Linked DNA regions of Homo sapiens: region 2 is linked to region 1. The links come from fine-mapping of genetic effects on gene expression. A gene starts in region 1. The other region holds a variant in brackets. All regions are shown on one strand. Distances are between the middles of the regions. Region 1 holds the start of CEP41 (centrosomal protein 41). Region 2 overlaps CEP41 (centrosomal protein 41).

Region 1 (5,378 bases):
TTTTTCTCTGCAGATACCTGTATTTTTCTCCATGCAAATCAGGATTATATTAAATAAAAAGTTGTTTCTTGCTCTTTTCATCTACTGTATCAGGAACAGTTCTCCACTGCCTTAATTATGCCTTGAAACATACTTTTAAATGATTCCATAAGATTACTTTGTATAGATATGCCAGCATTTATTTTAATCATTTTTAAATTGATGATCAATTAGATTGTTTCAATTTTTATCATTTTAAATATACTTCCAGTAAACATCTATGGATGTAATGTCTGTACATTTGTCCAATTATTTCCTTAGGAGGAATTCTTAGCATATTAAGATTTGAGGACTTCTCAATACCTACTCTCAAATTATTCTTCAAAATGATCATGCTCCTTTATATTCGCACTAACAATATGTGATCATGTTGTTTCATGAATCATTAGCCAGCACTAAGCATTATTGTTAAAGAAAAAAACTTTTGTACATTTGATAGTTGAAAAATGGGATCTAGTTATCTTGCTCTGTATTTTTTTTTTTTTTTTTTTGAAACGGAGTCTCGCTCTGTCGTCCAGGCTGGAGTGCAGTGGTGTGATCTCGGCTCACTGCAAGCTCCGCCTCCTGGGTTCACGCCATTCTCCTGCCTCAGCCTCCCGGATAACTGGGACTACAGGCACCCGCCACCGCGCCTCGTTAATTTTTTGTATTTTTAGTAGAGACGGGGTTTCACCGTGTTAGCCAGGATGATCTCAATCTCCTGACCTCGTGATCCGCCAGCCTCCCAAAGTGCTGGGATTACAGGGGTGAGCCACCGCGCCCGGTGCTCTGTGTTTTTTTGATATGTTTATTGGATGTTTTTCTTTTATCAGTTATCATTTTGTACCATTTGCCTATTTTTTACAAATAGAGACACGGTCTCACTGTGTTGCCCAGGCTGGTCTTGAATTTTTGGCCTGAAGTTATCCTCCTGCCTTGGTCTCTCAAAGTGCTGGAATTACAGGCGTGAGCCATTGCCACCACCATTTGCCTATTTTTTCAAAGTAAGCACTTGGCGTTCGTTTTGATCCAGTTTTGGCATAGCAGGATCCAAAAGGAATCCTAAAGAGAAATACATGATGTTAAAAGTCTTTTGGTTTATAGCTTTAAGCTTTCCAAGGATTCCATTGAGGCCAAATGTGAAGGAAAGGGGTGACTCTTTTAAAGGAGAGTCTCCTTGGACCACAACACCCCCCGCTCCCCACCCGCCGGCCAGAATCAGAATTGAGGGATTGGGGAGGGAACATGTATTTAAATTACCCCACCCAGACACACAGACACACAGTCAGTTGGATCCAAGAACCAGCCGGGTTCTATAATCTCTCTATAATGCTTCCTGTGCAGTCCAAATGTGACAACCACGATGACTAGTGAGGCAAGTAAACCAGATGTTCTCTGGAACAAAAGAGAGACAACCGTACAAAGAAGTGAGCCAAAACACTGAAGAATGGAAGTTGAATGGACTGTTGGACCTACTTGTACTTTCTGCTGTTTTGGCTTTTTGACTGTTGTTCTTTAACTTGATTAATGCATTATCGCCCATCTACTCAGTTCCTCAAGTTAGAGAAACTATAGCCATCTTTGATGAATTTCTATTCCTTGCACCCCTTACCTCTTCTCATGTATACTATTGATTTTACCTACACGTCTTTAAATCTCTCCTTTTCTGTCTTTCTCACCACCTCTGAGTGTAGTCCCCTATCATCTCCCTCTCTCCTTTCCCGTTATTCTATCCATAATCTCTATGGTTACCCACAAGGTGCACCAGGTAAGCATACATTCTAAATACTAATGAATCTAGAAGTTTCTGCTTGCTATGCAAAAGCTTCTAGATTAACATTCTTCCCTCTGCCTCCTTCCAATTTTTTGCAGCCTTCAAACCCTTCCTTAGCAGAGGAGTGAGAGACTGAGAATTTTAGAGGGGTTAAAGAACTGGCAAAGATTATGGAAATTAAGACAAAACTTAATAAACATGAAAGAGTGACATGAAAAGTCCAAGAAGCAGCTGTGGCCAGAATTCAAAATTCTGGTCAAGCAGCACTGACTGGCAACATGATCCAAGGTGTAGCCCTAAGGTTGGGTTGCTGAAGTGCCTAAGAGAACAAGGGCATGTGAGGCCATGTTGTTGAATGGGTCATCTCACAGACCCTGAAGTAGCTCAAATGTGTGCTATTATTCACTAACAGACAACTGGCGAGTATGAACTGCTCAGAGTAACCTTTCTCCATTCCTGGAAAAACAACTTAGAGCAAAGGACAAAGGGTTACTGTGTTGTTCCTTTCATGTAAAAGGAAATAATAATTTTGATGGATTTGGTGGGACATTTAGGAGCCAAGTCAAACTGTGTGTGTAATTGTTTTGTAAAGGTGCTAGGACTTCATTTTCAGATCCGGAATGGGAACAGGTGGTGGCTGGTGGCAGGAGTCACAATGGTTTCCATGACGACGGGATTGGGTCCTAGTCATCCTCCCATTCTCCACAAGACCTACTGCAGCTTTTCTCATAAGGTGCTTATTAAGTATTTGTTAAATGAACGATGAACCACAGAATAGCGCGTGTGCTTTGCAATTAAGGATGTCGCTCTATAGCTAGCCTAAAAGCTTTTAAAGCACCGATAATTACTGTATTTACCCATGTATTTTGCATAATTCGCATATTAACTTAACCAGAAAATAATAAACCATACTCTCCCATTTCTGCTGAACAACCCTGGCCCATATAATATTCCCTGTTGTGGAATCAGTAGCCCAGATGTTTGGTTGAAACGGCCATAAAACGGAGCTGGGGGATGGGGAGTCTTGTGTTGTATTTATGGTTCCACATTAGCTAAAACTCGTGTTTTGTCCCGGCTCTCAAGCCACTGCCCCCGCCCCCGGCTTTGCGCAGGCGCCAGCCTTCCCCTCCCCCCGCGCCTCTCTTCCCGCCCTAAGGCTGGAGCCGGCGAGCCCCAGCCCAGAGAACAAAAGGCCTCGCTAGCCGGCGTCCCGCGTTGCCCTTGGCAACCATTGAGCGGCGTCTTGCCCTTCTGCGACCCTGAGATGAGAGAGTAAACGGGGCCCCCATTGGCCGGCCGGGGAAGACGGGCCAATCGGAGAAGAGGGTATAGGGAGGCGGCTGAACAAGGTTGTGGGGGTAGGAAGCTAGGGTTAGAGGCAACCCGTGAGGCTAGAACCCCGAACGTGGTCGGTTGGAGAAAATATGTCCCTCCGGAGGCACATTGGGAACCCTGAGGTGAGGGCCAGGTCTCGGCCGGAGAGCCGGAGGGGGCGGGCGCACCGGAAAAGGCTCATGTGGGCAGGGAAGAGCAGCCAGCGACTTCCGCCGCCCGGAAGGCGGGAAGGGGCCGGCGTGAGGAGGGGTCGGGATGCAGGGGCGGGGCGGGCCGGGCTTGGGGGCCGCGGGGCAGCGTTCAGGACCCCGTTTTGAGGAGCGATCTCTCCCCGCGTACGCACGCCAGTACTTGTGACTGCGAGGAGCGAAGTACCCAAAGACACAGCCCTTGCCCTCAAATGGCTTACAGTCTCGGAGTGACAGTTACAAAACAGAAAAGACAAAGGAAGCGCTGCACACTAATGGCACGTGTTGAAAGCCAGCCAGCATCTCTGATTGTGGGGATACAGGAAGAGCAGGAGTAAGCTGACCAAACCTTTGGAAAACGGGCAAAATAGGACATTAGGCTTACCCCTCTCTCCATAGGACCCTTCAGTTTCTTCATCTGTTTCACCGCTAGTCCCCTGCTGCATTTGTGGCAGTTTCAACAAACGTTATTGGAAACTTCCACGGTGCAGTAGGTGCTAGACGTACAAAGAAGACAAGGCCTCTGCCCTTTAATAAATTGCGTATAGTGGACCAGGCGCGGTGGCTCAGCCTGTAATCCCAGCACTTTGGGAGGCCGAGGCGGGCGGATCACGAAGTCAGAAGTTTGAGACCAGCCTGGCCAACATGGCGAAACCCCGTCTCTACTAAAAATACAAAAATTAGCCGGGCGTGGTGGTGAGGCGCCTGTAATCCCAGCTACTCGGTAGGCTGAGGCAGGAGAATCGCTTGAACCCAGGAGATGGAGGTTCCAGTGAGCCGAGATCGTGCCATTGCACTCCAGCCTGGGTGATAAGAGCGACTCTGTCTCAAAAAAATAAAAATAAACAATAAATAAATTGCGTCTAGTGAAGGAGCCTGTGAACAGAATTTGAGTACAGTGTGGTCGGGGAGCAAGATGTTACGAGAAAATAGGTAGTACTCAACTGAGGGAGTGAGAGAAGGGTTGTGGAGATGGAAGGGGTGGCAAGGCCATTCATTAGCCAGGTGAAGCATCATCCCGGGTAGAACAGCCCAAGTGAAGGTAAGGAGTGTGTGAACTCAGAACAGGCCCCTGTAGGAGTCCAGGCTTTCTCTGCCTTGCTGAGGTTCTTAGCCTTTATCCCAAATAGGAGTTGTAACTGTTTCATCTCTTGGTGGCTGCCTGGTACTAGGCTGAGAAAGCTGTAAGGCTGAGTCTAAGCCCTGCAAGAGAGCCATGGTCAATTGGTAATGTCTAAATGCTGCATGATCTCACTTATACGTGGCATCTTAAAAAGTCCAGCTCATAGAAGTAGAGAATAAAATGGTGGTTACCAGAGCCTGGAGGGTGGGGGGAAGGAGGGCAGAAATGGGAAGATGTTGATCCAAGGGCACAAAGTTACAGTTAAACAGGAGGAATGGTTTTTGAGATCTCTGGCACAGCATGGTGACTATAGTTAATAATAATTACAGCAGACTCATAACCCCCAGTAGAAAATCCATGTACAACTTTTTACTCCCCTCCCCCCTGCAAAAAAACTTAACTACTAATAGCCTACTATTGACTGGAAGGCTTCCTGATAACAGAAACACTTGATTAACATATTTTGTATCTCATATGTATTATGTACTGAATTCTTAAAGTAAGCTGGAGGAAAGATTATTATTAAGAAAATCATAAGGAAGAGAAAATATATTTACTATTCATTAAGTGGCAGTGTATCATCATAAACATCTTCATCCTAATTGTCTTCATTGCTAAGGGGCAAGGAAAAGGAGGGGTTGGTCTTGCTGCCTTAGGGGTGACAGAGGCAGAAGAAAATCTGGGTATAAGTGGATCTGCACAGTTCAAGCCCATGTTGTCCAAAGTTCAACTATATTGTAGATTTCAAAATAGAGTAAATTGTATATTTTATGAGAGTAAATTTCAAATATCTCACCTCAAAAAAAAGATAAGTGGGTTGATGGATATGTTAATTTGATTTAATCATTCCACATTGTGTGTGTGTGTATATACCAAAACATCAAATTGTACCCCATAAATGTATAAAGTTATGATTTGTCTATCAAAATATTAATAAAAA
Region 2 (5,378 bases), 46 kb after region 1:
TGTGATTATAGATTCTGGTTTTGGCCGGAATTTTGAATCAGCATTAATTGAATTGCTAAATGACTGACATTCATTCCATTTAATTGGGGGAACAAAAGGCCTCAGGTAAGGATGAGGAACTCTGAAATCAGATGGAAAAGAGCGGTGTTAATTTTTATGGTCTGTGATCGTAGCTGTGATAAGGGACTGAGGAATAAATTGTGCTCTTTGTCATGGCAACCAGCTTCTGAAAAGCCCACTGAAAATTGCCTGTCCTGCTGGTAACTGCTACGGGGTAAGATTTGCCTTAACAGTACTATTTTCTCGCCACCAAAAAAAAAAAAAAAAAAAAAAAAAAATGCACCACAGTATTTCTAGCATGGGGGCTGTGTTTGTATGAGAAATAAACGTAATAAATATCTCATAGAGACATATGGAAAAATAACTTTCAGATTCAGCCCAGTTCTGTTTTAGAGTGTGTTTATTCTTCTCTACTTGATTTCCAAAGTGCAACATTTTCCGATGCTTTAGAAATCAAACAAACCAGGGACATTGTTCAGATGTCAAGCCATGCCCAATTTTCCACAAGATTCAAGAATCTTGTATAAAATTCAGCCAACGTACACATAGCTTTAATGAGGAGCCTGTCATGTTTCCCCATAAATTTATTGCCTGAGAACTTAGTTCAGCCTTTGCTAATGCCAAAATGCTCTGGCTTTGTATTTTCTTTACAGCATAGATAGAAAAATGCACATTTTTCCACACTCAGCTTTCCCCTAGCATGGACAAGATTTTCAGCCATTTTTGCCACATATACATTTTTAAGGAAAAAAGATTTTTCTCTGTAAGAAAGTTCTGGTTATGCTGTTTTAAAGGTGACTTGTCAGGAGTTGAGACTTCCCTGCCGGATTCTATTTTGAAAGTAAATGGTCTTCCCTCCTTGTTCCGATTCTGCGTTCCCATCGTCAGACAACTTTGGAGTATTAGAAACCACTGTATATATGTGGAAAGCCAGGTCAGCCAGACCTGTTAGAATTGGTGTGCACTCACCTGAGAGATCTGGCAGGTTGGATATATTTATGTGTATTTCTCCACAGTGCTTGCTTTGCCCTGTTGGTAAGGATTTTAAATAACCATGCTCAAAAGAGCTGTTCTAATCTGCGTTTTGCATGTTAAGTGTTAATATCAAACATTCTTTACGTGCTCGAGGTATTGCTTTTAACATTCTACTTTGCCAGTTTCTTCATTAGATTAATTGACATGTATTATTTAAATGACCAGTGATGCTTTGTGCAATTATGAATGTTGAAGATTAAAGTACATAGTTACTAATTTGTCGTTTGCTATTAATATGCTGAAAACTGCCAACTTCTCTCTTCTTTTCTGTCGAGATGATTTGGGGGAGCCACAGGAGACTGGTGTGATTTTTGCTGCATCTCCTAGGAAAGCATTTTTTAAAAAAAATAAATGAATCAGGAAATCAGTCCAATTAGGGCAGGGGGCCTCAGCTCTCCAGTCAGAAAGCCTGGATTTCTTTTCCTGCTCAGGCTGGGACTGAAGCCACCTTCAACAACTGGATCATGGCTTCCTACCAGCGTCTCAGGGGTTGACTAGCTGCCCTTGTCTGGGGCTTGTGAACCCTGAGACAGAAGGTGCTTCATCGATGTACAACTACAGCACCCTGAACAGCAGTGATGGCCAAAGTTTAAATAATACCTTAAATGCTTTAAAGGGGTTTGTGTTTAAGGAAGGGAGAAAAGAAAAAAAGAAAGGAAGGGAGAAAGAAGCAAGGAAATGGGAAGAAGGGAGGGCAGAGAGAAGAAAAGAAGCAGAAAGCGAGAGAGAAAGGAGAAAGCTACATTACTTATTTGAAAACAAAAGGAACACCCTGGGCTGTAATAATGTCAGGCTCAATCTCTTGAAAAAGTATGGAATGATTTAAATGGCCTGCATTCATTTTATCTTTTATCTTTTTTTTTTTTTTTAACCTTTAGTGGTTAGCCAGGACCAGCACGATCATATTGGGCTTGGTATAAATCCGAATGAAAAGAGACCAAATAACATTCATTAGTTGCTCAGGGATTTTTCCTGTGGTGCTATTTAAATTATACAAAAATTCTTAAGACTTTAGGCTACTCGACCAAGAAAACAGAACAAAACAAAAAATCGTGTTTTCTCTAATTCCCTTGTGGAATGTAAGTGAAATCAGAGTCCTAGGCTAGGAAGAAATACGTAGGTAATTTTTCTTGTGTTGGTTTTGGTTTCTGTCATGTTGTTTATTGGCTATAGATTCTGTCTTTTATGTTATCTGACTTTTTTAGAGCGAATAATTAGTTTCTGTCCACCTGGATTTAAATCCATGACCACCTTCTTGCTCTACTCTGAAGATAATCAGTAAGAACCTTTCTTTCTCCAGTTCTAAAACGTTCTCAGTGTCTTTAATGTGTGTTTATTTTCTTCCCAATTCTTTCAAAGATTTAACTCCCACGATACTTTTTTTTCCCCAGGAAACACCGCAAATGTGTGGAATATAATTCACCAGTTTAATTATGTGAGCATGTTGAGTACTTACATGCAGGTCCATTAATTTTTCACTAACAATTATTTTTTCATGCAAAAGCAATAAATAACATTGTGCTTCCAAAATGTTCAGAATACATTTGGGTAGTAATACTTTCCTAGATTTACAATAATTATTGAAATTATTATTATGACATCTTTAAATGGATACACAGGTCAGTTACAACATAAAAAATGTAATGGTGGAAATTTGTCAGCCTTGAATTCAGGCAGAACAGGATTCGGTGCATGATTTTATGTGTTTTCGAAACGGTGTCTGTCACATTGTGATCCCCTGATGGCTCCCCTCTCTGTTGCTGATCCTCTTTGTTCTGTACAGAAGCAAATTCTCACCTGTGTAACATCCTGAAGCACCTGGTAAAATGTGAGGCAAAGAGAGGCCACTTCTCAAATGCTGTGGACGGATGGGCTGCATCTTTTAAAGGATATCAATATGTCTTCCTGTTGCAATTATTTTGACTATAAGCTCCCAGAGAGTGAAAATCACCAACCCTGTGACAGTGGCCCTTAATAAGTGTTCATGAATAAATGAATTGAACCTGTCAAGATTGAAGTTTGGATGTGATGCCCACTGTGGTGGCCACTCAGTGCTAGTCTGTCATTCTGGAGACCCAGAAAGCTCGTTATCTTCTGTCCCCCTTGTGTATCCTGCCTTTGTGGGCGAGGCATTCAAAACCCTGAGGTTTTTA[G/C]ATCTCCCTCTACAGGAAGTACCCAGAGAGCTGCTGGGGGTGTTATTACCCTGTCTCTGCCAGGCTTAAAGTATCCTCCCAAATTCAGCACGCAAAGGTCACACACCACCCCCATCTTAAGAGTAGGTTTTCTCTTTTGTTTCAAATCTTGAAGATTTCCAGAAAATAATAATACTAGCCAATGTTTGTGGAGAGCTTACTTTGCTCCTAGATTCTTCATTATATGTTTTGACCCATTTAATTTCCACAACAGTCTGATGAGGCAGGCACCCCCATTTTCAGATGAGGAGACTGAGGTTCGGGTAGAAATTAAGTGACTCAGGTTTGCCTTCAGTCTCTGACCAAGGGTTTGAAAAGCCAGGAGCCAGCCTGAGAACTGTGGCTCCAGAGGGTGTTCTTTCAGCCACTCCGCTCTATGCTTCTCACTCTGGGTGGGCACAACCATGTTCTCCTTTGGTGATGCCTCTAACTTACCGTGAAAATGTACCTTTCCCTTCGCTATTGGCTTCCCTTCCCTCCTAGTCAGCCGAGATTCTTTTGAAAACTTTCCTCCGCTTGCCTGCACAAAAGGCGATGGAAATTCAGGAACTGAAACATCTGCTCTGGGGAATGCGTATTTCCACATTTCCACCGCCTGTGTCTGCTGTCTTATCTTGAAGACAGGTGCTCCAGGGCTTCCGAGGTTATTTTGTCTGTTAATGGACACCTTGCAAAGTACCACTTAAGGAATGAGAATTACAAACTTTTAATTATATTGTAGGGGGAAAAAAGTAGGCTGTTTTCCTGATAGGTCTAGCCATTCATTCAGTAAACCATATTGATATGATTTGTGCCTGATCTTTTCTTTCCTTTGTGGTGATGTTTCTGATTTCGGCTGAAACATAAGTTGCATGAATTGGCGATGGCCATAGGCCTGAGTTCCCGGGGGAAGCAGAGGCAAACCTCCTTGCCCCAGTCCTTGTCAGCAGAGCCCTTATTCTACTGCACTCTTCTAAAAATGTAGCCAATACCACTACTGTGGTTAAGCAGAAGACTTTCCATTTTCTCCTTTTAGTTTGGCAATAAACATTTGGCAATCCCAGTCTCTGAGGTTGTTGGATGATGCTCAGTGTTTGAGTTGCCAAATTAATGCAGATCCTGAAAGCTTTGGGGAATAATTCATTACCCTTTGACAGTTTTTTAGATTTGACGATGCATGCTCTGTGCTTTTCTGAGAGCTTCTCCTTGATTTGGCCAATTTGAATGTTACGGTTAGTCATATCAGCTTCATCTGAGTAGCATCTGGGTCTTAGTGTGTTCACAGAATGATGTTGCTGTAGTCCTTAAAGCAAGAGTCCCTGTGCATCTTCAAATCCACCTCATCCCACTCGCCCTTGCAAAACAATTGCCAGGGTGATGAATCGCCCCGCACTGGATGAAGGACCAGTGAGGTCATATCTGGATTGTATTCAATGACATTCCCATTTTAACTTTAGGCCAAAGACAGAAAGCTAGCTGTGCATATCTGAGTGTTAATTCAAGAGGCTACCCTAAGGATTCTCATAGATCACCAATATTGGGCCCACAGGCCATTAGAGAACCATATGTAATGGTCTGAGTAAAAAGTAAAATGAGTTCATTTGAAAATAAAGATTTTCAAAGGCCCTGGGGAATAGGCATTAGCATAATCAATTCCCAAGATAGCTACAAGAACTGAATGTGAGCAGGAAGGGGTTTTGGGAATTTTCATCAAGCTACAACAAGGGGTAGGATGGGGAATGGCCCCCAACTGCATGAGCTGAGTAATCTCTTCCTTTGGTAGAAACACTGCTGCTTCCAGCTGTATCTTGGAGTGTGAATTTTTCTGAAGATAAGACAAACTGCAGCGTTCCGGGCAAGATGATGAAACATTATACCGGAGCAGAAAAAAATGAGTTTAGACAAATCAAAAGAATCTGAGTAAAAACTAAGATGGCCATTTAGCTGTTTGATGTTGATAATACACCGATGTTAGGTAACTTTACACACATGTTATCTACTGTGTTCGAAATAGCTCCCTTCACTCCCTGCCCGTTATAAAAGCTGATTATAGAAGCTCATTGCGAGAAATGCTGAGAAGCATAAAAAGGAAAACTACCACCACCACTACCC

What was found.
Region 2: its variant is fine-mapped to the expression of CEP41 in blood mononuclear cells (TOPMed, PIP above 0.99). The same link has a PIP of 0.9 or more in NK cells.

Annotation. Positions count from the first base shown.
Region 1 is chr7:130,438,805-130,444,182 of GRCh38, reverse strand. It overlaps CEP41 (centrosomal protein 41), which reads left to right and starts at 3,167. Exons shown (of 11, transcript NM_018718.3): 1 at 3,167-3,249. The coding sequence starts at 3,217. LOC105375505 (a long non-coding RNA gene) reads right to left here and starts at 2,429. Exons shown (of 3, transcript XR_927973.3): 1 at 1,495-2,429; 2 at 1,294-1,413; 3 at 957-1,080. RefSeq lists an enhancer at 2,727-3,481.
Region 2 is chr7:130,392,467-130,397,844 of GRCh38, reverse strand. CEP41 (centrosomal protein 41) reads left to right here. Exons shown (of 11, transcript NM_018718.3): 11 at 1-4,074. Among named protein-coding and RNA genes, the nearest start is that of CPA1, 15 kb to the right of the region's middle. RefSeq lists an enhancer at 3,104-3,163. The variant G/C (reference allele first, on the strand shown) is at 3,249.